2 separate regions of the Homo sapiens genome follow, and region 2 is linked to region 1. A link means that fine-mapping ties the variant in region 1 to the expression of a gene that starts in the linked region. Tissue or cell type: whole blood. Region 1 holds a variant in brackets; the other region holds the start of a gene. All regions are shown on one strand. Distances are from middle to middle. Region 1 overlaps ZNF608 (zinc finger protein 608). Region 2 holds the start of ZNF608 (zinc finger protein 608).

What was found. PIP is the estimated chance that this variant, and not a neighbour inherited with it, causes the effect.
Region 2: ZNF608 starts here. The variant in region 1 is fine-mapped to the expression of ZNF608 in whole blood (INTERVAL, PIP 0.97).

Annotation. Positions count from the first base shown.
Region 1 is chr5:124,642,591-124,658,027 of GRCh38, forward strand. It overlaps ZNF608 (zinc finger protein 608), which reads right to left. Exons shown (of 10, transcript NM_020747.3): 4 at 7,020-7,107; 5 at 4,089-6,543; 6 at 1,654-2,071; 7 at 921-1,093. Among named protein-coding and RNA genes, the nearest start is that of ZNF608, 96 kb to the right of the region's middle. RefSeq lists enhancers at 5,923-6,431, 9,444-9,493. The variant T/C (reference allele first, on the strand shown) is at 7,181.
Region 2 is chr5:124,741,866-124,757,256 of GRCh38, forward strand. It overlaps ZNF608 (zinc finger protein 608), which reads right to left and starts at 4,774. Exons shown (of 10, transcript NM_020747.3): 1 at 4,330-4,774; 2 at 2,219-3,307. The coding sequence starts at 3,124. RefSeq lists enhancers at 288-982, 1,626-1,675, 2,066-2,145, 2,206-2,275, 2,373-3,066 and 5 more and a silencer at 6,892-7,131.

The sequences.
Region 1 (15,437 bases):
TATATCCATGCACATTGATGGGGAGCAGCACATCTGCCTAGATGGGGCTACTAGTTCCCATCAGTTACTGCCATGTCATTTTGAACCAGATTTTCTATTGTCTTTTTTTTTTTTTTTTTTTTTTTTGAGACAGAGCCTTGCTCTGTCGCCCACGCTAGAGTGCAGTGGCACAATCTCTGCTCACTGCAACCTCTGCCTCTCGGGCTCAAGCAAATCTCCTGCCTCAGCCTTCTGAGTAACTTGGATTACAGGTGCCCACTACCACTAGGCTACTTTTTGTATTTTTAGTAGAGACGGAGTTTCACCATATTGGCCAGGCTGGTCTCGAATTCCTGACCTCAGGTGATCTGCCCGCCTCGGCCTCCCAAAGTGCTGGGATTACAGGCAGTGGCTCACTCCCGGCCCAGATTTTCTATTGTCTTAAGAGAAAGAGGTGATCTGAACTTGCATGTAAAATGTCTGATTTTTAAAAGGTATCCTGCAAGAAAACATTTTTTGAAAAGCTTGATTTGCCCAAAAAGTCAACAGTTTGTAGCCTCTGAACTACTTACTTACCAAAATTATATAAAATATACTCCTCTGTTACCTAATTCCTCAATGTCTTATCAAACATATTTTGCACCAAAAGTTGGTTCCTATGAATTTAAATTTCCACCTAACAACCATCCTCCTGGGTAAGCAAGGTATACTAGATTTTGCAACAGAAAAGCTTGCTACTGCCATACGTGCTTTAACAATTTTCTCTCATGTGTGAAAGCGTCTTACTTTTGAACGCTCCATTCTTTACGTATTAGGATAAAACAGCATCCTGAAATCACAGCTGGGTTCCGAAACCATTTATATTTCAAGACTGTTCTCTAGCTTGTTCCCCTTTCTCCCCAAATCACAGTACTTTTAAATAACAACAAAAGGAGGCTTACAGCAGGAGACTTGCTGCGGTATTGGTTAGCATGCTGCTGGAGCAAATCCAGTGCTTTAGATTCAGTGGTTGTTTTCGTGTTGACGCTAGGGCTGGTATTGACTTTCTCTGTCTCTTCTCTCCCTGACATCTTCCCATAAACAGGATAATGAAATCCTGGAGAGAGATATGCCCCTGCAGATAAACAACAAATGCCACATCAAGTTACAGGCTATATCTTTAAAAAAAATCATTTGGGTTACATGAATTTGGGATAAGAGTCAAAGAGATCTTAAAATAGGGGGTTACATTAAGAATGGGCTACATCATCATTAAACTGTGTCTAGCTTCTCCAATTTTCTTCTCCCAGTTAATTCATCCTGATGAAGGGAGGTTATAAACAGAATTGAGCTTATAGCCATTTCATACATTTACGTGTCCGCTTAAGTGAAAGGAATAGTAACTATAATGATTATGACAGTAAGTGCTTAGAATATTTTTATAGGCAATAAAGTATCTGTCAGCCTAACAGCTATAGCAGACCATCAGAGACTATGGAAACTATGGCTGAGGATTCTTGACATTTCATTAAAAAAACTTATATTAAATCAGTTTTATCTTTGGGACTTTAAACAGCATAAAAACAAGGAAAACAAATGTCACTCTTGAAGCTTCTAATTTATCTTGAGTTTTTAACAGCTAATATTTGAACATCGCCTCTTTCCTCCAATATAGTCAGAACCGACAACACGTACCAGGATAACTGTGCATTAGGACGGGAGAAACAGCCCGGTATGCAGGATGGCTGGGGTCGTACATCTGTGGGTAAGGATAAGCATGCAAGTACTGTATGTATGACTGATGCTGACTCATGGGTGAGGAGACAGCCACTCTTGTTCCCCGAGAGTCCTTCCAGTTCACAGGAGTCTTTCGATCATCATTTTTCAGCTTGCTCTCCTCCATTGATTGAGAATCAGGATGCTTGGCCTCTTTGGGCTCCTCTTTAATGCTTGTTAACGATACAGGAAGGCTGGGCACACCACTCTCTTTATTAGGAGTTTTCCTCGGACTATCCTCTTTTAATTTCTTCTCTCTATCAAGTTCTTCTGACTTTTGCTGATCCAGATATTTGGGCTGGTATACATAATGATGCCATGTTCTTGAATCTGGGTCCTGATTTTTTTGTTTTAAAGAAAAAAAACCCAACAGATTTGTTTTAAAATTTCAATTTTAAAGAAAACTTGTTAATAATCATGACAGCACTAGCACTCTTAATTTTAATGCTAAGTTGACATTTATTTCTGTGCTAGACACTGTGCTAATTGCTTTACCTCCTTCTCTTACAAAGTAATAATGTCCCAGGTAGGCATTATTACTGATCCCCTGTACAGAAGATAAAACCAAAGTGTTTAAAGTTCAGGCAACATCAAGGTCATGCTGCTGCCCAGTCGTGGAGCTGGGCTTCAAACTCAGGTCTGCTGAAATTCAGAGCTGGGCCCTTAATGTCATTTCTCAACACTAAATAACATCCTCAGACATATTTAATTCTGTCTTCGTTTGCCTTTTAATATCTCACACAGGTGAAAAGAATGTTAAAAACTCCAACTCAAGCTAATAATAGTAAATTTAAGTAATTGCTATAGCTATTAACATCACTTAGGAGGAAAAACTCTTGGTTTCCTAATACATTTTCCTCATCTACTGCAGCTGAGGCTTAATATATTGGCTCACTTCTCATTACGTGTTAACATCTTAATCAAAACAAAATTTCAAATTAATAGCACACGTTATGGCTTCTCTATTGGAAAACAAAGCCATCTATCTATAAACCCCCAAAATTATATAAATCTTCTGCAGCCCTGTGAATTGACAGCCTGATTTATGCCTCTGTAAGTGGGGAAACTGAGAATCCTAAATGGCCTTTGTGATCCCCATCCCATTCATGATATAAACCCACTGGGGATTCAGGTTCTCAGAGAACATGCAAAGTTGTGCCTAAGTAAATGTGTGTGTGTGGGTGGCGGTGGTGGGGGCTGGTGGTTCTTGCTCTAATGCACCAGGGATTATCTAAGCATGGGGGTGAGGGTGGGAGTGGGGATGTGCAGTGCTGGGAAATAACCAGGATTAATGCTCACGGGGTTGCAGTGGGTCAGGATGTCTGAACCATGACAGAAGGTGCTAGTACATTTGTGGTTTCGTGGTGACCAATTTTCAGGTGTTCTCAAGCTGACTGACCCATGGGGCTCTGGGACAGCTGTTGAGGCCTGCCACCCAAACCTCCTCACCCTCCTCACAAACATTCAGCACTGAGCTCTGAGTTTTGGGGTACTTAATATAGGGAGTAAGACTGAAATCTAGGCATCTCTGACCCCATGTGAAAGAAATTTGGGCCCCAAATTCTATTAAAAAGATTAATGGGAAATGTGAATTCAGGGACCCAGTTTTTATTATCTTCAAAGAAGATGCTAGTAGAAATTTGAAAATGGAAAATAAATATTTCAGAGATAAGACTCAGAATCTCAGAGTTAGAAGAGAATTCAGCAGCCCCATTGTGGAAAGCCCTCGCCTTGGACTAAGAAATTAAGGGATCCTGGCCAGGCGCGGTGGCTCACGCCTGTAATCCCAGCACTTTGGGAGGCCAGGGTGGGCGGATCATGAGGTCAGGAGATCGAGACCATCTCGCTAACACGGTGAAACCCCATCTCTACTAAAAATACAAAAAATTAGCCGGGCATGGTGGCACGTGCCTGTAGTCCCAGCTACTCAGGAGGCTGACGCAGGAGAATCGCTTGAACGGAGGCGGAGGTTGCAGAGAGCCAAGATTGCACCACTGCACTCCAGCCTGGGTGACAGAGAGAGATTCCGTCTCAAAAAATTTAAAAAATTTAAAAAAAGAAATTAATGGACCTCATCAGAGTCACAGAGCAAGTTAGTGGCATGAAACACAAATCTGCAAAGCACCCATCCACAGTTCCTTTTACTATACACCATGACAAGAAAATACTGATAATGTACATTTTAGAGCTACATAGTAACTCCTGAGAATCTTAAGATATTTTTCAAGAGCAGAGGAAAAAACTAATATGGGTTTCTTTCCTGTGTCAGAAGTCTAACCAGATCAAGCCCAGACATGTATAATACAAGTCTCAGACTGCTCTCTCCCTGTTGGGGCCACGCTCCACAATCTTACTTGTTTAAATCTCGAGGTTGGGTCTACACCTGTCTGCTTCATAGAGTCCATGACAGACTTCATTTCTACAGCCTCCTTAATAAGCTGGTGGTTTTCCATCTGCTTAGCTTTGAAGCTGTCGGCCTGAAGCTGCTGCTGGTGATTGGAGAGAAGCTGCGATTTACCTGTCTCCTCAGTTTTATTAGGCACTGATGGCCCTAGTTTAGAATGGTTTTTGTTAGGCTCCGGAGTAGAGGGAGCTTTTGAGATTGTGGCCGATGGCATATTTTTCTGTTTAGTTTCCTCCTTGCCCAGCTCTTTCAAGGGGAGCTCACTTTTCCTTTCACAGTCTCCTCTCCCAGTCTGGGCCATTTTCTGCTCTGCCAGCCTCTGGTCCTCATAGTACTTCTCATACTGCTGTCTATAGGCAGGGCTGGTGGCCATCAGAGACTTCTGGTCCATATAGAGCCCATATGCATACTGGCCATAATAAAGTGACTGAGCCAGGGCAGGATGTCTTTGTGTGATCACCGACTGGTGCTGAGGCTGTAAGGATGCAGAATTGTGGTCCACTTTCTTAGAATCTAACTGCTCTGCCTTGTCTTTCTTTTCAGCATCTTCCTCAGACTCCTTCTTGATCTTCATTCCCTGCGTGCTCCCACTATTTCCAGCTGCAGGGGCACCGACCTGCCCAGGGTGCATGTAACTTGGAGAATAATAAGGATCATAGCTGTGGTAATAGGGAGAATGGGACTCTTTCAGTTGAGATGATTGTGCTGTAGTTGAAGAATGCCCTTTTACAACACTGTCCTTACTAGAAATAATATCTGATGGGGAACTGGCCTTTGATCTCATACCCTCCGACCTGCTGTCAGAACCACCATCGTCAGCAGCATCAGATATGTCTGAATAGGCCGGGCTGCTTGTCTTTGCAGCTGAACTCTCTGCCCCATTCTGGGTCAACACATGCAGAGGTGCCATTGGTGCCTGCCCGTTCACCAAAGTGCTGCATTCCAGCCTCGAGGCGCTCCCTATGGAAGGGCTGGGAGCGTTGTCTGTGAAAGTGTAAACCTTATCGGCCTCAGCTTTGATACTGGCCATGCGGCTCTCCTGAGACTCCGACAGTCCATTTGCCAGCCCTTCATTCTTGTTGAGATGATCCTTTAAAAAATGCCCAGGTAAATCTTTGCTGGCCCCCTTGGAGTCCTCTAGTTTCCCCAGCTTGGCATCCATTTTTGGGCTTCCCGTCTCTTTCCCTTCTTTGTCCTTTAGCTTTCGCTTCTCCTTTTTCTTTTTGTCTTTGAGTGACACCAGAGCTGGGTTCACGGTGATGGGCTCTCCCATAATTGTGGGCTTTGGTTGAATGGGTTTTAACGGAGGACTCTTTGGTGTAGCCTGAACAACAGTTGTTGTGAGGGAGGGCAGTCCGGGTATTGTCCCAGTGGTGGTCGTTGTAAAGGTTGCAGTGGGTATAGCGATTAGCTGCGGGGGAGTGGGGGCTGGGGCAGGGGCAATGGGCCGGGCACTTTTCAGTTTAGAGAGGTTTTTGTCCGTTTTGCAGTTGGTAGCTTTTTTGCCCTTTTCTTTATCTCCTAAATTTTTCTTGTCAATTAATCCTTCTGCTTCCAGTTTAGGCATCTCAGCAGCCAAACTGCCGTCTGCTGCCGAGCAACTGTCTAACGCAGCCGTCATGTTGGAGATTACTGGAAGGTTGTTCAGTTCATTGTTAAGGCCCTTCTTTTTGCCAGAATTCTTCCCAGCTTTAGCACCAATAATGGAACCTGGGCCATTGCTCATCAGCTCTCTCTTTCCCTTTGGGGTCCCAGGTGGGTTTCCAGCACCAGGGGATGCCGGTGCCTTCAACTGGTCATAAGCAGATACACTTGTGCTTGGCTCACTGCATTCAAGTGCCACATTACTCAATCCTTCCTCACAGTCCGAGATCTTGTCCTCACTGTCAGGCTCGAACTCCAGCTTGTTTTCTGGGTCTAAGTGTGCATGAGCCTGGTGGTACCTCAGGCCGTTAATGTGCTTGTACTTTTTGTTGCAGTTTGGGTGGGGACAGTCGATTAACACTGGAGAAGAGCAGCCTTGGTCCAAAAAAGTAGTCTCTGGTTTCCCTTGAGGGGTAGTGGGAGTGCTTCTGGAATTTGTGCGGACACGCTTTCCAGGCTTATTGTCCTCAGAGCTGGAGTTCAGGTCCAGCTCCATTGGAGGCTTGTTTTTCCTTTTGTTGGTGGAGGAAGGGCTGGCTTTGATATCCTCAGCAGCACAATTTGGGGGTGTCCTTCGTCCGCTGGCATTGAGGCTGCCCCGCCTCCCTTTCCCATTGGCCCCCCCTCTGTTCTTATTCTGCAGCCCTCTGGACTCTGTGAAGCTGGCCTCGGAGCCCGGGGCAGCAGCAGCAGACCTCGCTCTCTTCCCTCTGCCCCGGCCCCCTCTCATCTCCAGGTCACTTGTCGGTGACTCACAAAACCTATGGAAGCAAGTAACAGATGTGAAAATGAGCATCCCCAAAAGAGCCAGGTGAAATCACAAAGTACACAATGCAGTAAAGAGGAGTCAACACTCCAGTAGCTTCAGGGCTGGGCCCAGTCAAGGAAAAGACTGACAATTTCCAACACCTGCAAAAGAACAGGCGACCAAGGGCTTATATTCTTCCTCAGAAAAACCAAAGAAAAACAGCTCAAGTAGCTAGCTTCCAAACCAGTTCAAATTCCCACTTTGAGAAAAAATGAAAACAAAGACAGGAGAGAAGGGGTGGGGAGCAGAGATCTTCTGATAGAAAAGAAATTTAGCATCTGCATTTTACTGCGTTCAATCCTAAATTGCTCATTTCTCCTTTGCCTGGTTTCAATTACAGGCACACTTTTATGTATTATGAATCTCTCTCTACAGTTTCCCTGCAAAGAGAGGATGGGGAAGGAGAGAAATAAAAGGCCCTGTTCATACCTGGGAGGGGCCCAGTCGTGCTTGGTGCAGTCCAGTAGGGTTCCCACGTACGTTTTGTTCCTCCACGTGACATTGACCACTAGGACACCTGCAGGAGGCAGGGGATGAAAAAGGATCATAGTTACCACTGATTACTGTTATTTCCAGTTCACTTATTATTT[T/C]TTTCTCTTTTTTTTGCCAGCAAGTTCTATTCTCATTTGCTTTTAAAAGCTGTGGTTTGCATTCTTCCTCTTTCTGGTTTCAGTGACCTCAAGTTAAAACCCACAGGAAATAATGTGTGTTGTGCATTCGTGCGCGTGCGCATGTGGTACAAAGGAGTGAGACTGTGTGTGAGAGTGTAATCAAGATACTGCTGACAGAAGGAAATGGTTTTTGCCATGTCCTGCTGTAAAACAGCAACACTCACCTCTTAATTTTTCTATTATTACACATAATTGCTTTCGTTTGGCAAGCAGCCAATATAAACTAGCGCCAGTTACCAGTGCTTAAACCAGAGGGTGACTGAAAGGAATCGGTTTTGTTTCCAATTCAACAATATAAAATGATGGTGATTTTTATTAAGAAAAAATAATTATGCAGGTGCATAAAAATAGGCATAGACAGGAGAGTGGGGACTCAAGAGTCCAGATAGCAGACAATCAACTACGATTTCACTTCCCTAATCCTCCCCTCTTTGACTTTGTGAGACAGTAATCAGCCTGGGTACCGTATCTGTTTCAGTGTTTGGTTTTGTTTCATATTAAGGACTCCTAAAATAGCCCTCTTAAGAAAACAAATGTGCACAATAGATTTACTCTTGGGGTTATCTTTGGAGTCAACTTTGGTACGCATTTGCCTCAGAGGATTAGAAAAGAAATCTCAAAACTAACACACTCGTTTCCTGCAAGCCATTCTGCTTTTTCCAACTGCTTTTCAGACAGACAATTTAATTTAGCACTGCATCTGTGAATTACTAAACTTAAGTGTGCTTAGTATACCAAATGTCACAGAGAAAATATAATATCCTCTTTATTTCTGAGAGGACAAATGCCAAATTACAAAAATCACTTCTTTAAAGCATATTTTAATAGAACCTTGATTTTGAGACATACATAAATTATTAGGGTAAAGAAATAAAATATTTAACTGAGCCTTTGTTTTCTTTTCTGCATCTACCCCTACTCTTTCTTGGAAGCACCAGAAGACATTAGTCAAAATCTGTTTCTAGCTAGTTTGCTCACTTGCATTACCATTGCCATTGTGAATTTTACAGAAAACCTGTAGTGGGCTCCTTTACAGTAAGGGAAACCTGACAAGGTAAGACTCATTTCCTTGGGAACCTTTTAACAGCAGGTAAAATATTTCAATGGTTGGGACTCAAGTAATGGAGAACGATTTCTTTCCAAAGTCTCAAAAGGAGATTTTAAAATTGTTTCCCATATGGTCTATGTTGCTATTACTTAGGCAACAGCTGAATTATTTACTCTGTGTTAATTCAGTGTACTGTAGCAATAGGCTAGCAGGGGAAAGGCTAGGATGGAGCAAAGCAAGTATTTCCTCAAATCATAGCTGATTCCAATGAAATTCCCTCAGGAAATTTTTTTAAAACCATTGTGTATAAAATTTCCTATTGCGATGAGAATCCATGGTAATTAGGCATTTGGTCAAAATCTGCACAAGACAGAACAATTGGAGGAAAGGATTCTTTATGAACACATCCCTTCAGGAAAGGGGAGGGGGTGGGAGAGGAGGCAAAGGGGAAGACTGAGCTGGTTTTCTCATCATCTTCTCTCTGGGGCACTGTGTGTGGTGTCAAAGACCTTTGCAGCTGCTTAAAATTCTTTAGCATGTCAGCTATATTTACAGTGCAGGAATATATCTGTACTGCCAGAAGGTTACTGCATTTTAGCTTTAGATCCAATAGGCTGAATCACTGCGTTCCAGAGTCCCTGATGTAGCACAAATATATAATTAAAATTGCTTGAAAGGAAACATGAAAGAAACAACAAACCTTCCATTCTTGCAGTAATAAAATTAAAAACAGGAAAAGTCTGCACAGACACTTAACATTTGTCTGCAGTGAAAGGCTTTTGTTATTGCTTTTCCCCTAAGGGTTTCGCGTTTCCAGAGAACGCTGGCCGCGGATTGGCCGGCGCCCGCTGCGAGCACTCGCGTCTGATTGGCTGGGCCGAGGCGGCCGCCCGGAGCACAGAGGCAGCGGTCGGGTAGAGGTGAGCGTGGCGGAGGCAAAGGGACGCATCCCCCACGGCGCGCTGGCCGTGCGGGGCTAGAGGGCCGCCTGCGCTGCTCGGCTCCCTCGGTGCACGCGGGACACAGGCTCATTCGCACTAACGAGTCCGGCCGTGCAGTGAAAGCTTCGGTCTGCGTGACCGTGCTGCGCTCCCCGCGCCACGCGGCTCCACACAACACGCCGGCCCACGCAGAACCCTCAGAACGAAATTCACCGTCTCAATACAGGCTCAAGGGAAACCTGGAGTCTGAAAAAAGGAAGGGACCCAGGGCAGGCAATTAATCACTGGTTATCTGGGGCCACAGGTTGAAGCTGTCACAAAGGCTAATCTGCAGTTGCAACTTCCTCACTGTAAAATTATTCACATCTCCTGCTGCTCTTTCTGGAAGCCACACAAGCAGACCTCTTATCGAAGTACAAGTGATGCCGTTGTTATTTGCACTCGGAAGGAATCAAGTCCTGGAAAGAAAAATCCATTTTCAACCTCAAAGGGCCTAAATAAGTAACCCTTATTTTTCCAGAAGCACTCCGTATTTAAAATGCTCAAAACAAATGCTTTACACCCAAGGAGATTTTGAACAGTCTCCATCAAGCAGTGCTAATTAAATATGTGTGCTTGTGTCTATCTTTCTTTATATGTACGAGCCGCTTCACAATGCCACAGAGTGTTTAAATCTGCCCACAATTCACATCCGAATATATACAGGCACATGTTTACACAGCCAAATCTGCCACTCTATATTGGAATGAAGGCTTAAGGAATGTTTCTCATATAAACTACACAGTGTACTGTTTCTTTGTAAGAAGGTCTATGTTTAGACAACACCCCATTGTGAAGGGCCAAGTATAAAGGCGGTGTTTAGGTTCTAAAACTTGTAAATGATTTATCATTTTGCTGAAATCTCAAAATCTTGAACATTTTATAACCCACAGTCACATAAAGCAGACTACACTTACTGAAGGCATAAATGCCCATGATGAAAATTAGTTCTTTAAAAGTGCAAATTTGTATTTTATAAATCTGGGCATAAAGTTCTATTTCTCACATGTGAATTGGAAATAAGTGTACACTTATTCCAGAAAGATTAGTTTCTTTTCACGCACATTTATTCAAACATCTAGCCAGTGAGCTAGGTGTTGGGGACGTTCTATACAGGTACTTTTCATCTTTATATTCAAGTATTCTACCAGGTTTATTATTCTTCCCTTTCCACCCATGGACTGGGCCTGGCCTTTGTCAGAGAGCTAATGCCCTGTAACATTTCATCTGAGGCTTATTACTAATAAAGTAAGAATACAGCTGAAGAGTACAATGGATGGTTTGAGAGTGTGCTGACCACACACAGCTTTCTTCTTTGTACTGTTAACACTTTGTCTAAGATGCTGCCCCCAAAGGCCTATTACCTACAGAACATTTAATAAGAACAAGGTCTTTATTATATAACCTGAGCCTGTTACTTCCTCAAGCCAAAAAAGCCTGAGACCTCATAAGGATTTCAGTCAGTGTTCTGTTATGTCCTTTGTAAAGGGTTTCCAGGAAGATGTCAAGCCCAACAAACACTTATTGTGTGTGTCTACAGGGTACACATTAGGTGCCTATTTAGTGCTATGGAATCAACCATGTTTTACTTGGAGCTCCATCCAAACTCTGTACTTCAAGAGTCTGTGCATGAAAAGAACAGAAGAGACACAGGCATACACTGTGATGCACAAGTGGAAGTATAGTTTTGTCTATTACCTGCATTTTTACAGTAGGCCCCTTATGCTATCACGTCAGGCTAGACCCTGGATTTCATGTTCATGGTGCCCCCACCTAGACCAGTGATCCTAACCCTGCCCCCATCTGACTGGACCAGTGATGGGCACCTGGAGCAAAGGCAGCCAGCCCAACAGGGACTTATGTTGGGAATCTGAATGAGAAATATGGAAGTTCCAAAGAACTGGCAATAGGAGTAGAAGCCTAAAGCTTGCAAGATAGTAAGAGGCGTAAAGAACCATGATGGGCCAAAGTTCCAAGGGCGCAATAGCTATAAGACCAGGAAGCCAACTGCACTGTTGGTGCAACACCCTCAGGACTTTGTGTGCGTGTGTGTGTGTCCTTTTTCTCTCCAGCTTCATCACTGATAGAAGATTTCACCAGCACTCCCCCAGGATTGCCTATTTTCCAGCCATCTTGTTAAAAAGTTGTTCCTTGTGTTAAACTAAATTTGTCTTTGAATACCTTGGTCCTGGCTGAGCCTCCTGATACCCTGCAGATGCAGTCCACCCATCATCCACTCAACAGCCTTTCATCCAGGCAAGGATAATGACCATGTTGGCATTCTCCCCACCTCCTGCTCACTGTCTTTTTCCTATTTTTTTTTAATGAGATGGGCTCTCAGTATGTTGCCCAGGGTGGTCTTGAACTCCTGGCCTCAAGCAATCCTCCCCCGTCAGCCTCCCAAAATGCTGGGATTACAGTGTGACCCACCACACCCAGCCTCTATGTCTTCTTTACTCTCCAGCCTAGACAAGTTTCTTCAACCGTTCTTCATGTCACATTTTTAATTCCCCTAAAAGAAACCTTGAAGATGCCTTAGTCCAAATCCCTAGGGAAAGTTAAAGTTCCTAATGAATTAGAAGCAAATGGAGACAAATGCAAAGGTTCTCACTTCTGTGAATCCTTGCCCTAGACACACGCATACCAGGCACACTGCCAAAAGACAGCCATTCTCTCCTGGATCCCCACAGCACTGCATACACAGTTCTTGCCCTGATGGAAACGTACGAGCCATGTTTCCCTCCCCTTTCTGAGCTCACAACTAGACTCCTTCTCAGCCTCCCTATCAGTCCGATGCAGCCATGTGACTGAGTCCTACAGAAAGCAAGTGAGAGAACTGATGAATGTGGGCCACTTCCAGGCCTGGCCCATAAGAACCTCTCATCCCTTTCTGTCTGGCTGCAATGGAAATGGCTATTGTGATCTCGAAGTCCTCAGGATAAAGGTGGCAGAGTCTCCTTCATCTGGGACCCTGAATGACAAGGAGAACTTCCCAGGTCTGAACTTAAGGCTATTTGTCCTACCGTAATACATGGCCCCCATAATATTTTACTCTGCTTGTATACACAGTATGCCTAACTCTTCCAACTAGATGACACTCCTTGAAAATAGGAGCAGTGTCTGCACCCACAACCCCTGGCGGCACAGTGGCTACCTAATAGTGAGAATTCATTAAACACCTAGGAACTAACTACACGAGGACTGACGAGAGAGAGAGTCTAGACTGAATCCTACTCAGTGACTTCCTTTTATTACTACCATACTTTTTCAATAAGCATAATCTCCCACTAGTTTTATAGATGATAGACATTCTCTGTGGAGAGGCTTTGCTCCCAAGATGTTATAAATGTGGTTTATGAATTATTATTTCTGGTATTTGTGAAGCTGTTTCCTCAAGAACGGGGCAAATGCCTGATTTCCCAGTGGATTGACATAATTCTGTTTGTATTGAGTTTAAAGACTGCTTCAGAGTCTTTAAAGTGCCTCATCCCCGGGACAGAAGTCTTTGCCAAGCATCGCAAATGCTGAGTTTGGAATCAGACAGAAGTTTTTTTGAACTCTCTCAGACTACCACATCTGGATGCATTTGATGTGCATCCAGGCAGAAAACAGAAACCTCATTCGAATAACACCAAATGGTAACCCATTCATGCCATATGCCTTTAAAAAAGAAAGTTTACACATTTCTTTCCTTTTATATATTTTTTTCTAGTGAAACATTGGTGACAAAATGTCACAATATGCTGATTTCATGAGTACAGGATAAAATTCATATATTTCAGATATCATATTACCCTCCATTTTTACACAACGTGACTATTGTGCAAGGTATGATTTATCACCATTTCTTTGTTCAGGACTCCCTCCCCCCATTATTATGTTGTCGTCACTCTGTGGTATTCAATACTGGTACTTTGTAAAGGCTGAATCTTGTATAGCACAAGCTTCGCTGTTCCAGCCTCGGAGCTTATAACCTTCAGACAGATCCTTCTTCAAATATAATTATTTGGGAAAATTTAAAATGTACAACTAAGGTTGCTCATAAAATACCTGCCAGCCAAAAATCAGAGGGACTTTCCCATTACCTGTGCCAAGTATATATAGAGCACTAGGACAGGAAAAGTAAGTGTTGTCACATGACCATAAAATGCAGTATGTTTTTTTTTTAAAGAGCCCTACCGCTGGGCTGAATGTTTGAAGAGTCACTTTAAACACATCCTGTAATCAAACCATCTGGAACACAGTGCTGCGATTAGTCACCCTGAACATAGGGCTTTATCTGAACAAATAGTGTATGGCAATGGAGCTTGGGAGATAGGGCAGTACTAACAAAAGGAAGTGTAATGAAACACTTTATGCCCTAGTGTGCCGCCACCCCAGTCATAAACCCCAGAGACACACTGCTCTGGTGTTAATGTACTACTTTATGAAAGCACAGTGAGCTTAAAGATTAAAGGACTGAAGGGCTAAAAATTGCTGGTTTGGATAGATCTTCTCTGTCAGCGGCTGGAATATGTTGGCATCACTCTATCTGCGTTAATTATAACCTCTCAGATGACAGTTGAGCATTCCTATTAGGGTTTGGTGTTATTTTCAGGGCATTAGGAACAGGGTTTGTTTATGGGAGGGTAGTTACGATTCTTGGTTTGCCAGAGGTTAATCTGAACACAGACTTGTTTTTGGTTCATCTAAACCCAATCCACATACAACGACAACAAAAAATGAAACCTTAAGCAATAACAAAAGCAATGGAAAAATGCTGTTCTACTCTGCATTTTAAAACATGATAATCTTTCTTACTTGACTGTACTTATCTCTTTCAAAAGTACATTTGGTCATTGGTATACAATCTATGGAAATCCTTTTTTAAAAAAAAAATCTGAAAGGATTTTCCCCCTAAATACACAGAATAAGCCCTAAACACACACACACACACACACACACACACACACACACACACACACACACACACAGCTAAAGAAACCTTGTTTCCCCATGGGCCTTATGGTTTAATACACAAAAGAACACAGAGCCACTTCCATCACTGTCACCTCCCCTGCAGCCTTTGTTCTGAGGCCTGATGAGCTGTATTGATTTGGGAAAATCATTGAGCTTCTTTGGAAAACTAGACTCTCGCTTATTCACTGCCATCTATTTCTTTCCCATGAAGACAGGTGGTCAATATCCAGCTGACTGGTCAGCTAAAAGAAGCCCAAGCTGCTTTTTTCTTGCTTCCCTAGTAACATTATCATTTCCCACTTCTAGAAGATACAATGGCCTGTTAAGGAGTCTTGTGAGTAAGAAGAGGGAGCAGAAATAAGACTTTTATAAGGCACCACCGGTAACACTAAGATGCTGTCCCATATGTTCACGTGGGAGGCTGCACCGCACATATAGATGGTGACGATATTTTCACTGACCAAGTTTAAGCATCAGTGAAAACTTACAGGGCCCAAGATATAACATGAAAAGAAATACTAAATCAAAACAGATCATTAGAGACCAGGTGCAGTGGCTCACGCCTGTAATCCCTGCACTTTGGGAGGCCGAGGCGGGTGGCTCACGAGGTCAGGAGATCGAGACCATCCTGCCCAACACAGTGAAACCCAGTCTCTACTAAAAAATAAAAAAATAAAAAAATAAAAAATAGCCGGGCCTGGTGGTGGGCACCTGTAGTCCCAGCTACTCGGGAGGCGGAGGCAGGTGAATGGCGTGAACCCGGGAGGCAGAGCTTATAGTGACCTGAGATCGCACCACTGCACTCCAGCCTGGGCGACAGAGCGAGACTCCATCTCAAAAAAACAAACAAACAAACAAACAAAAACAGATCATTAGAGATCAATTAATGTTTACTGTGGAAAGACATGCTTTACTTCTTTTAAATAATCAAAACATATGTTCTACCAAGCAAGTGTCCTAGTTACAAAATGTCTTAGGTGTAATTTAGACATTTTAAGTAACAAAGAGCATCATAAAAAAAAATCACATGGAGATCTTTAGAAAGTAATTTTTAATCAGGAATTTTGATCAGTAACAAAAATATTTGCTTTTAAGTTAGGCAAACATACATATCCTAAAGCAACATTGCCCTTGATGACTTGAGGCCAGCTTTAAAATAAAATAAAATATATGTACTGCACCATTCATA
Region 2 (15,391 bases), 99 kb after region 1:
TGAGCCAACGCCCAACTTGACAGAGAATGGCCAACACTACAGGATCCAAGCCCCTGGATCCAAGCCTTTGAGGGGCCCCTGTGCCAACTCCAGTGGCTAAGATTGGTGGCACAGCTTCCTCTGGTATAGGATCAGAAGTGAATCTAAATTGCAGTGTGCTTTCTTCCCTCCCCCACCCCAGATCCACCATGACTTGTTTGCTCTTCATTTATGTAATTCATATTTATCACATTTATACTGCTCTAACTGAAGATGAGTTGCATGTATATGAATAATTTAATTCTTCCATTCTTCACCCAGTTTCCTCTGTGACTGGAAAGTGAAAAGAACACACAAAAACTGGAGAAACGACACCACGCTCTAATCTCAGTTGCCATGACAGCAGCCTTTTAGATACTGAAATGTTCCGATTGCCAGCTAAACAAAATTGTTGAATGTGAACATTTGGCTGGAAGATTAAAAGGCTAAGGGGAATGCAAAAGGGCAGTACCTCCCACATTCCAAGCAGCCAGTGAATCCAATCAAATGGCTCTGACTCCTTAACCACAGCCATTGTGAGCACTGGATTAGGGCAATTCATCTAGATAGTTAAAGCAGATTAGAACTGCAATTTGAAGACTATTGGCAACAAAAGTAAATGCCCTACTGTACTAAGTAATAAGAAGATTTCAGAACACCTTTTAGCGGAAATAATGTGAAACTACACATTTAAATATAAGACTCAAAACCCGGAATTTTCAAAAATTCATTTATATTCATTAATGTACCTGACCAAGAGGATATGAATTTATAAGCGTTTGGAGGCATTTTGCAAATTTGGCATTATCTACACCTTAATGTGCCTCTATCAACTTTTAAAAATCAAAACTTTACTCCTATACTCCAACTTAAATCCTGAACACAAAAACAAGAATATAAAAGTTTAAGTAGCAGTGAACCATTTTACACAGAAATAATTCTCCAAAGACATATTATCACCACTTACAATCCCAATCGCCAACTATAGCAAAAAAAAATCAAAATTATTTAATAAGGATGTTCCCCAACAACCATGCCACAACCCACATGACAGAAAGCTTGCTTCTGCAAGGCACAACCTGTAGAATTAATATGAAGATTAATTTCATAGAAATATCACACACACACCCCTAACTCCTTCCCAACCTGCCTAGTGGACAGAACACCTTCTGTTCCCAAACATTAGTCAATGTGGTCTATGACTAAGCAGCAAAACATGGTGTGGGTGTCGGGGCAGGCAGTTCTTCCAAGGCAGTGTCTAACTATAGACTTGTACAAAGAAGGGGAGAAGGGTCCAAATGGTCTAAATCAACCATCCACACCGTTTAAATGCAGCACATAATTCTATATTCCAATTCACTCAACCGTCTACATCCCCTTTGGCTACATTTTCACATTTCACGAGTATCAGTCCAGCAAGTCTGTTTTATTCTTCTTAGCAGCCGTCCAGCTCCCCAGTCAGGTATCCAAGTGATAACACTCTTAAATCTCTAGCTAAGAACTGGGTGAGGGAACAGGGGTAGAGTGCTAACAGCCACCAAAACCATCGAGTTTTTCTGCAGTTATGAAACCAATGACCCAACACATCAAGCTTGGGGTTTCATTCAGGACCAATAACAAGAACTCATTCAAGGATATCCTTTCACAGTACTATTTTGGAGACAGTAAGAAAAAATAAAAGGGATGAGGTCTGTAGAATGTAAATTCGAATCCTCGACATTCCTCTCCAGGGAGGGAACTTGAACCTTGCACCTAAGGACACATTACCCGCAATACTAGGATGAATAAATTAAAATAGAAAACTGTTCCCCTTAAGGAAGAAAGCAGGACAAGAGTCAAGAGGGTGCATGAGCAGGTTTTCTATTAAAAGCACACGGCAACCTGCTGACTAGTGAGGAACCGATCTACAGGGCAAAAGGTACTTAGAACACTCAGGCCCTCCCACCTGGGAACCCAAACACTAGCATCACAAGCAGCAGCAGCAGCAGCAGCAGCAGCAAGGACAGCAGAAGCAAGAGCCAAACACTGCACCCAAGTAGGCTCCCCCATATCAAATTTTAATATAAAGGATGCATATCATAGAAATCTCACAAAGAACCAGAAAGCATAAAGTGTAAGGCACACAGAGGCACACCCCCACACACCCACACAAATGCACACAGAGGAGAGTAGGACATCTAGGAAGGCGACTTTATCCTACCTTCTCAGTTTTCAGTTTCTTGATTCGCCTGTGGCTCTCCTCCTCCTCCTCTTCCTTCTTTACCAACATAGAGTTTCCCATGAGCCCTGAATCCGGGGCACTTTTGCTAACTTCCCCTGCAGCGGCGACGCTGCCACTCCCAGTGCCCCCGCAGTGGAAGGGGCTCGCGCCACCTCCATTGCTCTTGGCCCCAAAGCCATAGAGGTGCCCCCCGGAAGGGGCCTGGCTGCCACTGCCATTCTGGTGGCCCTGAAGCAGGTCGTGCTTGTCCTTCCTGGATTTCCCCGCATCCTTATCCCGCTTGGCGCCTCGGCTGCTCTGGCTTTTACCTGGCTTCTCCTCTTTGCTTTTCCCACAGGAGCCTGCCCCCGCGGTGGCGGCAGAGGTGCTGGTGCTGGTACTATTGCTGTTTGGGTTGCCGCTGCCGCCGCTGCTCACACTTTGACCCAGCGCTGAATTCATGCCAGTTGCCTCTCCAGGGCGCCCTTGGACTTCCTGCCTCTTGCCAGTGCTGCTGATCTCGGGAATCCCATACAAGGCAGCAGAAGGCAGAGATTTATTAGCATCCTTAGAAGTTTTACTCCTTTTCACTTTTGATTTGCTGGTCTCTTTGTGTGAATTCCCCTGGGGAGCAGAGGCCTGAACAGAAGCAAATTTTAGGCCATCAGCTAAGGCTGCGGTAGCACCAGCCCCACTGGAGGCCGGACCTCCACAATCCTTGGAGTTGCTGCTACTAGTGGTGGTGGTGGAATTATTCATCTCAAATTTCTGTCTGTCCTTCTCCAAATCAGCGTCCAAATCAATTATTAAATTTCCAACCCCGATTTCCCAATCATCGCCACTGTCATAAGTATCAACTGTATTTGGATCCACACCTTTTCCTGCAGTAGAAATGTTCACTGACATCCTGAAGATGAGCTCTCTAGAATAAAAATCCGATGAACTTTTCTTTGGAGATGAGGGGACATTCGTTTATCTCCGCTGGGCTTTCTCTCAAAGAAAAAAAAAATCTTCTAATCTTCCTCTTCTTTTTCCTGCCCCACGAATGTGTCCAGGGATTTTACACCCTCAGTCCAGGTCCACCTTTTCCTGTGAAGGGGGGGGGAAAAGTCGAATATTTCTTGTCTGGGTGTTACCAGAATAAAAAACGATTAGTATTGGGGAATCAGTAAAGGGGACAGGGAAGGATGGAGAGTAAGGTGGCTCATGTATTGTCCTCACAGTCCAATATCAGGTTTAAAGGAAAATAACCAAACCCGAAAAATAAACCTATGACAGTAAGCATCTTACGGTAGCTAAAAAGAAAATCCCTTTATCAACAACACAAGGATAATCACCTTTTTAAAAGCATTAAATTATCTTAAGGATCTGATTCAAGTCCAGAAAGGTTTTTGTGTTCTTTTTTAAAGTTTAGGATTTCAGTCTGGCACATGTGATATCTCAACCCCAGAAACACAGCCTGAACACTCAGACAAGAAGGAAGAACACAGCTTTAAACATCCCTAAACATGTCCTAGATCTTGCAATTTAGAAGACCAGACCCTGGAAGTTCTGAGGCTAGTTTTCAGAATAGAATGTTGCTAAATTTTCCTTATTTCTAATTTAGGTTTCAGTACTTCTTTTTACAAATTGTCTGGGCAATCTGTTTTTTGTTCCTAGTAAGGAACAGAAAAAACAACCAATAACTGCCCCCAACACACACACATACCTCCCTCCTATCCTCTTTTCCCAAACAGCTTCTACAATTTCTTTTTTGAAATATGCATGTCTTTTAAGAGCATTTCTCTCTAGAAAAGACAGTGTTATATAAAAAGTTAAATACCTGCCTTTTGAGAAAAAAATACATTTAAACAATTCTACCATATTCCTAGGTCAGAGAATTGCTCACTCTCTTAAATACGGTGCTACTGACTGTACAGAAAACTGATTAAGACATACACTTTAAGTGATCTGCGCCAAGGTGGCCTCAATGACCGCAAATGAGTGTGTTTGACAAAGAGCAGTTAAAACGGTTTTTAAAGGGATCAGCCCCTTTTTAACAGTTGATTGTCAAGAAAAAAATAAATAAATATACATACACACACACATACACACACACAGACATTGCTTACCTTTTAATCCTTTATCATTTTTTAATTAGGCCAGCAAATCAAAATGCCTTTCCCACTCCACTCGGCAAACAAGCCTGTGCCTCATTTTACTTAAACACCAAATGATCAAGAAGGAAGAAACCAAATAACACATCTCAGCCAGAATAATCACTCGATAACATTATTCCACCTCCCCACCCCCCTTTTGGCAAACGAATCAGTCCTTTTCTCCTTAAAAAAAATGTGTCACTGTACAGCTGGAAAATAATGTTTCACATTCACAACAGAAGCACCAAAGGTTTTTTTTTCCTCTTAACAAGCATCGAGAATAATAGTTTTTTAAAAAACAGAGAGTTTAGAGAAAAAAGTTTTCCCAACTTCTCATTCCGCCTTCAGTTCCAGACTTCAGAGTCACCGTGATCAGTAATGATCCCATGTAGCAAACCTACAGGCGTCCGCTAGTAACGAGACAGAATGTGCTAACATCGGGATAAATTAGTGAAAGGGAAGAAAGAATAAGAAGAAAGGACTGAAAATCTGGGCTGGATTCCGCCTGTTAGTCGGGAAGTGGCATTTTTCCGCCCGTCCTGACAGATTTGATTTCTTGAACTAACTTAAGAGAAAAGGAGGGGGGGAGTAGAGGGAGGAGGAGGAGAAGAAAGGGTGGGATGAGAAACTGGGCAAGAGGAGAAAAAGAAAGGTGTGGAGGAGGAGACAGCAGATGATTCAGTGAGCTGATAAACCAGTTATAACAGCATTCGCTCGGGGCGGGGGGCGGGGGGCTTGGGGCGGTGGGGTGGGGAAAATAACGGCGTTTAAAATGGGCTCAGTCTTCGAAACCTAAAGGATGTGATGTTTTCCTGTCTTATGTTGTTTTAAGAAAAAGGAACTGAGTTCCTAGTATAGCTCCCGAGGGGAGTGGAATCCTCTGTCGCTCAGGTCAGCCAGTCATGTGGTAATTCGATAATTAGAGTCAAAATAAGGTTTTTGTTTTCTTTTTTTTTTTTTTTAAGGCGACCCTTTTCGGGAGTTTTTCCCTCTTATACTCGCAGCAAACGGTGTGTCTCCCTTTTATTTATTTTTTCTCTCCTCTCCCTTCGCCCAGCCCCTCCTGTGTTTAGTCAGATGGCCCCGGAGCTTGGCTTAGTATTTTTAATTAGCTGGCGTTTGGAAGCTAAAAGCAGTAATGAATTGTTGATGGATTGGAAGTGGAGAGTCGCTTTGCTGGAAATGTCGGGGCTGGGAGAGGGGGATGGGCGAGTTAGTAACAACCAACCATCTAAAAGGAGCGATTTTGTTACAGTGCAAGCCTTTCACATCACGTGAGGATCAAGGGCTCAATTGGTTGTCGTGAGAACAAAAATGGTGACAAGCGTATCAAGAAAATACTGATCTGGTCTTTAAAAAAAAAAAAGCTGAAAGTCTCTCCCCTCCCCCTGCACACACTCCCCCAACCTCCTCCCCCCGCCCCCCCGCAGTGGGCGAAGCTACAAGTTATGAATGTGAAACATTTCTCGGAGATCTAGGATCTCCGAAGTTCGGAAGGAGCGAAATGTAATGAGCACAAGAGCAAAGCAGATGTTTTAAAGAAACACTTTATAAACCTTTCCTCAACTTATCTCCAATTTGTCGGCTTTCCCAAGGGGCCAGGGACGGGGACGCCTGGGGGAGGGAGAAGGGTATCTCCGAGCTACTTGGATTTTAGGGACCCCCACTTCATGTATTAAACAAAGAAAAACCTTTTGCTTGCTCCCCAGCCTGGTCCTGTAATAAATACACCATTGTTACTATTTGTGGGTTTGTTTGGGTTGGGTGGGGCTTTTATTTTTTCTCTTAATGGTATTTTTGTTGCTTGCTTTTTTAAGGAGATGGCGAATGGTAATTATAACCATTACATGTAATGAGTGACTATTCCCTTGTTTAATATTAAATTATCGGGCACTGGGATCTGACAGGAGACAGAAATCGGCTTGTTCTGCCCTTGCCCCCATTTTCCTGGATCGCTTTGGGAGGGGGGTCTGCCCAGCTAGGACAGAAGAGGGAGGGAGTAAGGTGAGCTAGAGAATTGACACTGCAGACCAGGATATGCAACTGTGTCACTTTTATTCTCCTTTGGGTTAGAGCCCAAAAGCTAATTTCCTCTAAGTTACCCCGAGTGCCCAGTCAAGCTTAATTTGTGTGAAGTTACAAATGCTTCACCCTCCACTGAATAAAATTCACCCTTCTTGGGTTGTTGTTCTAAATGCAAAAGCCAAACCCTGTAACTAGTTCCTCATTTCTATGCATAAAACTCGCACATTCCCCTGCATGAAGTCCCCGCTAAGTGCTATATAGAGACACACCACGCAACCGTACTTACGGTCTGTATTGGATCGAGTTGACCTTTTCCTTCTAACTGCATTGAATGTGTTTGGTTGCAGCCGCTTTATTTTGGAAATTATAATCTCTTCAACAAATTTATTATTAAAGAAGATGGACCATCAAATGTCACAGACCGTCCTGTGTATTTTTTATAAAAGCAAAAATTAAAATTTAAAAAAAGCAAAACAAAAATCCCCCTGGTGCACACACACAACAAGCTTGTTCTGCAACACTAAATCAGGACTGAAACACAACACACACACAGGGGGAGTGGAGCAAAAGAAGCTCTCAGCCTCTATACCTGAAAGGGACTTTTCTTTGTTCCCAGTGCCCTTTCGCATCGGGCCAATCAGAGAGCAGCTTTTATGAAACTGGGCTCTCTCATTGGCTAGCTGCTTTCTCTTGGCTACTGTAGGGGGTTGAGATATACACACGTATAAAACACACACTGAGAGCGGGTGGGGGTGCTGTGGGGGGTGGTTGTGGAGACAAAGCGTTTTATTTTCCAACCAGATTGGGGTTGAGGAACCTCCCGCAGTAAGAAGGCAAAAAAATGGTGCGCCCCTTTCAATTACTACATCATTCACATAAAACACTTATTTATTAAAACAAATCTCAAACAGGCTGCGAGGAGAGGATGTCGGTAAATACAAGTTTGATTGTGTTATCTTGGGGGAAATAATGTATGTGATCGCTCGGTGGCAGAGAGAAGCCAAACGAGCCGCTAGCGCGTAGCGAAGAGAAAAGGGAGGCTGGCTGTGTGGAACTGACTGCGAGCATTTTGCCGGCTTCCCTTCCTTGTTCCAAGGACTTCGCAGCCCAACTCCCAAGACTGATTTTCTGTATTGCAGCTTCTGGCTTTCAACCCTCCCCCCACCACTTTGCCCTTCCTGCAGTTTTTTTTTTTTTTCTTCCCTGTGTCTCTCTTTTTACTCGCTGATTAAATAAGAAAAATCGATCTGCGGGTAAAGGCGATGGTGGGGAAACAAGTAACCCTTTTGTTTCCAGGGCTCTGGTCTACAGGCACTGAAGTGTGAACGCAGGCGACCATTTAACCAACACTATGTGAATGGTTCTTCCCTGGAATTAGTAACAAATCTTTTCCACCTGGTGTTATGTGACTCCAAAAAAGAAAAACTTAATATTAAAATAAGGCCCCAGCTAAACATAGTAACACCTCGGGCCAGCCTCATCTTTTAAAAAATCGACTTATGAAAGTTAAATGTACTAGGAAGATTAACTGTTAAACAGTCCCAGTACACGTATTTAAACTGTGGAAGGGTCAGAATTCCTCTTCCCCCATATCTTTAACCCCACTGGTGGGGAAGGGGGCATCATGAATCCTCTGAATGCTACATCTACAATCCACAAACACAGAAATATTTTAGAATTTATTGTAGGACAAATGCCAGCAACCAAGTTAATGAGACTCAGCTCATAGGATAAGAGAGGTTAATATGAAATAACAAGTTTAACATTTTACTATAACAGCTAACATATTTAAGCTAATGTATTTACATATATTAAGCCTTTAGAGTACATTTAATTTTTAATTTTTTATTGTTACCTTCATTGTTTTTAGAAGCTACAATATGGACATTTGAAAGTCAAAGGTTACTGTAAACTGAAAGCATCATGATCCCAAGTTTTAAAGATCCAGTACTACTGGGATTGTAATTTCCACGTGACAATTGTAATTTAAGGTTGTGTCTTAACTGAGTCATATGGACATGTAAAGTGAATGAGTGCTAGCAGAAGACAGCTTCTGATGTAAATATTCAGTGATGACTTCGTGGATCAATAAAAATATTTATGTCACATATTTTAAATAATGGCTATTGACTCATGTTTGAGCTTTCAATATATTTAGTCCATAAAAAAATTGCCAATTAGCTGTTTCACTACCATAAATGAACTAGATTTGAGGCTGCAAATAGTAATAAACAGCAGTTTCCACCCTTTATTGGGACATATAAACCAGAGGAATGCAATCTGTACTAGTCCTTAGCTCTCCCTAAGTCAATTTGTATTCAAATCAAAGCTGTACTTTAACAAATAAAATGGGCAAATTAGGGATCTGATATCTACCTAGCCTCCATTTTAGCTTTGAGATTTGTTTTATATTTTTGAATATACAGATTTTACATTTGTGTATGCCCCATTGATAAGAATACAGCACCATACTGTTTTTTAACTTTTCTTCTTCTAAAAGAGTGATTTCTCAAAGGATCAGATCACTCTTGGGCACTTCCTGTGTCCCTGGGGTGTCATCTACATCTCAGCCTTTGGAAGCCCATGCCTACCCCATATGTTATATTAGTTTGGAAATAATATATAGGTAGTTCTTAAAAGAATGGGACATTTAAAAATGAGACCTAGTGAAGCTGGAGAAGATTGGAGTTCCTCCAATACAAAACAAATTACAGCGTCTGCAGCACAGATGAAGTCTAACTAAAACCAAAGTTTAGGGTTTGTAATAATCAAATAATCTAATCTAACCCGAGCTTCAACACTTAAACCCAAACCTTAAACCTTTCTGAGAAACCCTACTGGCCCAAGATGAAGGCTTAGGCCCGACTCTACCACATATTTAACCCAAACCATTTTGATAAATTAAAGTATTTCCTTCCATTCCAACATCTCCACACTCCATTTACACCCCACCCCCACCTCCTTCCTCCCAGGTTCTTCCAGGAGACTTTTGAATAAACCAGTGTTGTCAGACTGGCTTTTCTTGTGTTTGTTTTGTTTTGTTTTGTTTGACAAAGGGGCCAATCAAAAGGCATCAGAGGACCATCAGCTAATTGATGACTGAAACTAAGACAATTAACTACCAGTTTTGAAAATCAGAGCTACTCCTCTCACAAAATTGGGAAGTTTTCTGTATTTATAGAGATGAAAATGTTATCTTAATCTCTCATCAAGGTAACTAGGAACCTATTTGTCACCATTCTAATATCCACATGCATATACTTCATAATATCAATACACTACTGTATAATATAAGCACTATGTAATTTTACACCTTAGTGTCTACTCAGAGATGTGGTAGAAAGGAGGAGATGTCAGGAAATGAGTATTTGGAACAGAGGGGTGGAAGGAGCATGAGGATAGTGTAAAAGGGGCATTTAAAAAGTATCATCCAGCTCTTTGGAGGCCGACGTGGGCGGATCACCTGAGGTCGGGAGTTTGAGACTCGCCTGACCAACATGGAGAAACCGCCATCTCTACTAAAAATACAAAATTAGCCAGGCGTGGTGGTGCATGCCTGTAATCCCAGCTACTCGGGAGGCTGAGGCAGGAGAATTGCTTGAACCTAGGAGGCAGAGGTTGCAGCAAGCCGAGATCGCGCCATTGAACTGCAGCCTGGGCAACAAGAGCAAAACTCCATCTCAAAAACAAACAAACAAACAAACAAACAAAACAGTATCATCCCCCTCCAACAACCTCCACTACCCGCTCCTTGGATCTCAAGATCAGCTCTGCCCCTGCTTGTACTACATCATTGTTAAGGTCATCAAAAGGTCCCTTTCCTCCTTTTTTAAAGACAGACGATCTCAATGCTGAGGAGGCCAGGGGCTTCTAGCAGTAACACAGGAAAACATGGTGATCTTTCTTTGGTGCCTATTTCCTCTGATTTAGGGTATATTATTAAAGATCAAAGATTATTTCTTGGGCTAGGCCCAGTGACTCATGCTTGTAATCCCAGCACTTTGGGAAGCTGAGGCTGGAGGATCGCTTGAAACCAGGAATTCAAGACCAGCCTGCTCAGCATAGCGAGACCCTGTCTCTATAAAATTTTTTTTTCTTTTTTTTTTTCTTTTTGAGTCAGTCTCACTCTGTCGCCCAGGCTGGAATGCTGTGGCACCATCTCAGCTCACTACAACCTCCACCTGCCGGGTTCAAGGGATTCTTCTGCCTCAGCCTCCTGAGTACATGAGATTACAGGTGTGCGCCACCACGCTTGGCTAATTTTTGTATTTTAGTAGAGACGGGGTTTCACCATGTTGGTCAGGCTGATCTCAAATTCCTGACCTCGTGATCCTCCCGCCTCAGCCACCCAAAGTGCTGGGATTACAGGTGTGAGCCACCGTGCTCGGCTACAAAAAATTTTTAAAAAGTTAGCCAGGCGTGGTGGCACATGCCTATGTCCTAGCTACTCTGGAGGCTGAGGTGGGAGGATCATTAACGGCCAGGAGTTGGAGGCTGCAGTAAGCTATGATCATACTGCTATACTCCAGTCTGGGCAACAGAATGAGAACATGTCTAAATATATATCTATTTCTCCAGTTTTTGTGTATTTGTAAGGGAGTCTATTCCTAGGCCTACCTTTTCTATATTTATGCCAACATTGACACTTGAGATCTACTCAGGATCAAGGGAAAAAGTGGAAAACAAAGTTATAAAAAATGAAACCAACATGGAAATGGGGTTAATTTATAGGAAAAAGAACTTAATTTAGACATAATGAGAAACTTACTGGCTATCCCAGAGGATTATGGAGAAAGATTCTTATCTCTCTGGGTTTGCTTATCAACAGGATGGCCTCAAGGCAGTGGGCAGGTGTCCTGCCCTGGTTTCTAGGGAATACAGTTGATGACTTATTAAACACCCACACAAACACAAGAAGGTCTTTGCTTTTTTTCCCTACAGGTAACATCCTGACTTGCTAAAGGTCCTCTAGAAAAAACACTGTCTCTACTTTTTCACACCTGCATGCTAAATCCAATTTAAGTTTCTGGGTAGTACTTTAAACAATATCCATTTCCCAGGCTGGATGTGGTGACTCATGCATGTAATCTCAACACTTTTAGAGGCTGGGGTGAGAAGATGCCTTGAGCCCAGAAGTGCAAGACCAGCCTGGGCAACATAGGGTGACCCCGTCTCTATATAAAATCAAAAAAACTAGTCAGGCAAGGTGGTCTATAATGCCAGCTACTCAGGAGGCTGAGGCAAAAGGATCACCTGAGCCCAGGAGGTCGAGGCTGCAGTGAGCCATAATCACGCCACTGCACTCTAGCCTGGGCAACAGAGCCGGACCCTGTCTTTTTAAAAAAACAAAAATATCCATTTCTGGATAACTGTTGCCAAAAGGAGACGAGCAGTGTTGTTCTTGGTCAAACATTTGACGTTTTGCATTATCCTGAAATATCACTGGAACAAGACAAAGCACTAAGAGCCTTGTCTACCGTGGAAAGAAGGGCCCCTGCACACCATAACATTTCAGGTCCTTTTGGGGAGCATGAAGGGTCTCAGAGAAGAAAAACATCAACAATGTTCTCCCTGCCATGAAAGACTGTGGGACATTTCCAATATACATTTTGTAAATACGACTATTTACACACATCGTATTACTCTGCTATGTTAACTTTTCAAGATACTTCTATGCCCTATTAATTCACCTTCAGTTTAAATTCCTTAGAGTATAACAAAAAGACCCTCCACCCAAGGGAGGGAAAGTAATAACTGTCTTGACATGTCTTTACAATACAGTTTACCTTAAACAAGTTGCGATGATATAGAGCAAATATTACGTGAATTTATTTAAGACTACAATGCATTTAATTAGTAAAGCAATATAAAGTTGAAGAACTTTATATACTTATAAACCCTCTATGTTTATGTAATTCCTCATATAGTCTCTAATCCTCCATCTTAAAATAATCAAAATAAAAAGCAGCAAATTGTCTTTTTTATGCCTTGCAGCTCTAGAGAACCTAGCAAAATATGGCAAAACAATGTGATCTTTAAAGGAAAACATTTGTATACTGCTCTCATTAAGAGAAGTGCAATGTAGGTCAGTGTTAAGTATCTGAAATTGTACCTCCGCTTGGCTCGGGCTTTTGTGGTGTGGTGTGTGCAGCTATATCTGAGTGGGTGCTCAAGCAAGGTCTGAGGATCAGTTAGCAAAGTAAGGCAATTTACATCTCGTGTAATGAAACCATTTCTGGAAAAGGATTTTTCTTTTATGCCAGCAGAGACTGGCTGCATAAAGAAGATCAAAACACAAGCTACATTAAAAAAAAAAAAAAAAAAAAGAACTACTTATTGGAGATTTCTGTTGCTGGTTTTATTACAATATGTATTTTACAGATTTAGGTAATAGCCCTGATTTTTCAAATCGACCTCTGTTTAGACACGTTTCACTTTCGGCTGTTTCTTGTCTGTAAAATTACAGTCATTTGCACGTTATTACAGTGAGTAGGAGACAGATTGTATTTAGCATTGGGTGGGGGAAGGGTTATTATGGGAAGTGATCTGCTAAGGTCAGCACATAATTTCAGCCTGAAGAAAATTGCTTCTGAATGGCTGGTCTGTTAGCTAGCCAAGGAATAGTCACTGGGAGAGACTGCAAAATACTTCTGCTTAATCTGCATTATAGAGTTATTCTCATTTCCAGATAGATGGCCCGTAGATACAGTGTTTGTAAAACTAAATTTAAAAACTTGTAGGTGAAATGTTGTCACTGCTCTATTTGAATTCAAAACAATTACAACAAAATGCAATACGATCAAGCACAGGAAGATCAAGAGGCAGCAGGATCCAGCCATTACGTTCCACTCCATCTTTCTCCTTTGCCTCCATTTCTCTGCTTCTTCTTTTGTCATTTTTAAAATCCTTATGACTTCATGACAGTAGATTTTTACATATGTGTAAAAATTGAGAGCAATACCAAACACATTGATACATGTATCTCCAACTTTCACACATATATGACTGCAGGAAAACAAAATGCCTAAATTAGTTTCTTTTTGGAGAGTGGCATAATTCCCTCAAGTGTGAAAGCACTAAATATACTTTTGATGCTAGAATTTAAGGATTTTTTTCACATTTTATAAAAATATATTCTATTTGTGCACATTTTCTAAAGCTGACAGAAGAACAAAGCAGTGATACTTATCAGAAACAGTAACCCCTGCCTAATTTTAATATTTAAATCCAACCCTTATGCATCACCTGGGAAGTCTTAACATATTTGGTTAGATGAAATCAGGAGACCAAAGTTTATTTTAAAGAAGAATAAAAGAGTTCCGTTATACTCGGCTCCTTTGGCTGTTGAATATCACTTTTGTTGTGAACAACTGTGCCTCTTTTGTTTTCAAAACAAGCTTTCCTAAAGAATGAATCACTACAATCATTTGGAGAATATGCAATAAACAACAGAAAGCCAGAAAGTTGTTTTGCTATTTTCTCAGCAGAGCCTTTCCTCCCCTTCCTCACAGCTCAGCGGTGCCTCCAGTCCACCAGCCAATCATCATTATGGAAATGTGGTTCTCAGCCCCCTGATTGGCTGACTTCTGGTCCAGGATGTTTAAGGTTTCTACAGCTCATCACATGCATTGCCTGCCAGACTGCTCTGTGGACCTTTTTCTACTATGAATATTTTAATCATCTTTTATTTTCCTTTCTTTTCCTTTCTGTCCTTCTGTCCTCTTTTTTAAGATTCTTAAAATCATTTAAGGAAGCACCTTGTATTTTCTTGCAAACACCTTTAAAATGTAATGATCTGTTAAGAATAGAGTTGAATATACGAGAACATGTTTTCTAACCATATTTTAATGTTTTCTGTTTATTTGGGTTTTAATGATGTGTCTTTGGATTTTAGAGGGGTCCCATGAAAGTTAAATGAACAAACATATGCTTTAATTTTTATAATTCTAAACATAATGTCTCCCAAAAAGAATTTTATTGAGATATTTACAAGTCAAAACATTAAATTAAAAAACCTTTAATACTGAAAAGTAATCTTTCAGGTAAAGGAGACAATGTATTTTTTCATAATTAAAACATTGCCTTTTATTTGTAATTTTAAAAGATGTTTTAAACATTAACACTCTTGGCCGGGTGCTGTGGCATACGCCTGTAATCCCAGCAGTTTGGGAGGCCGAGGCAGGTGGATCGCTTGGGGTTAGGAGTTCGAGACCAGCCTGGCCAACACGGTGAAACCCCGTCTCTACTAAAAATACAAAAATTAGCTGGGCATTATGGCAGCTGCCTGTAATCCCAGCTACTCAGGAGTCTGAGGCAGGGGAATCACTTGAACCTGGGAGGCAGAGGTTGCAGTGAGCCAAGATCATGCCACTGCACTCCAGAACTCCAGTCTGGACAACAAAGCGAGACTCTGTCTCAAAAAAAAAAAAAAAGGAAGTTAACACTCCTATAGTGTATTAAGGATGCACAACTCTTTCAAGCTTGTTGTTGTTGTTGTTGTTGTCGGGGTTTTTTGTTTTGTTTTGTTTTGTTTTGTATTTTTGGAGACAGAATCTCACTCTGTCACCCAGGCTGGATTGCAGAGGCATGATCGAAGCTCACTGCAGCCTCAACCTCCTGGGCTCAAGCAATCCTACCTCAGCCTCCTGAGTAGCTGGGACCACAGGCATGCACCACCACAGCCAGCTAGTTTCTTTATATTTGTAAAGAAGGGTGTCTCCTATGTTGCCCAGGCTGGTCTCAAACTGCTGGGCTCAAGGGATCCTCTTGCCTCGGCCTCCCAAAATGCTGGGATTATAAGCATGAGCCACCACGCCCAGCCTGAAATAGGTTTGTAATTCAAGTGAATAATAGTAGGAAATACATGTGTGATTTACTATGTTCCAAAAAGTCTTCTTAATTATTTATATGTATTAATTTATTTAATCTTCATAGCAGGCAAGTGAAATAAGTAGTATTAGCATCAGAATGAGGAAACTGAGACACAGAAATCATGTAATTTGTCTAAATT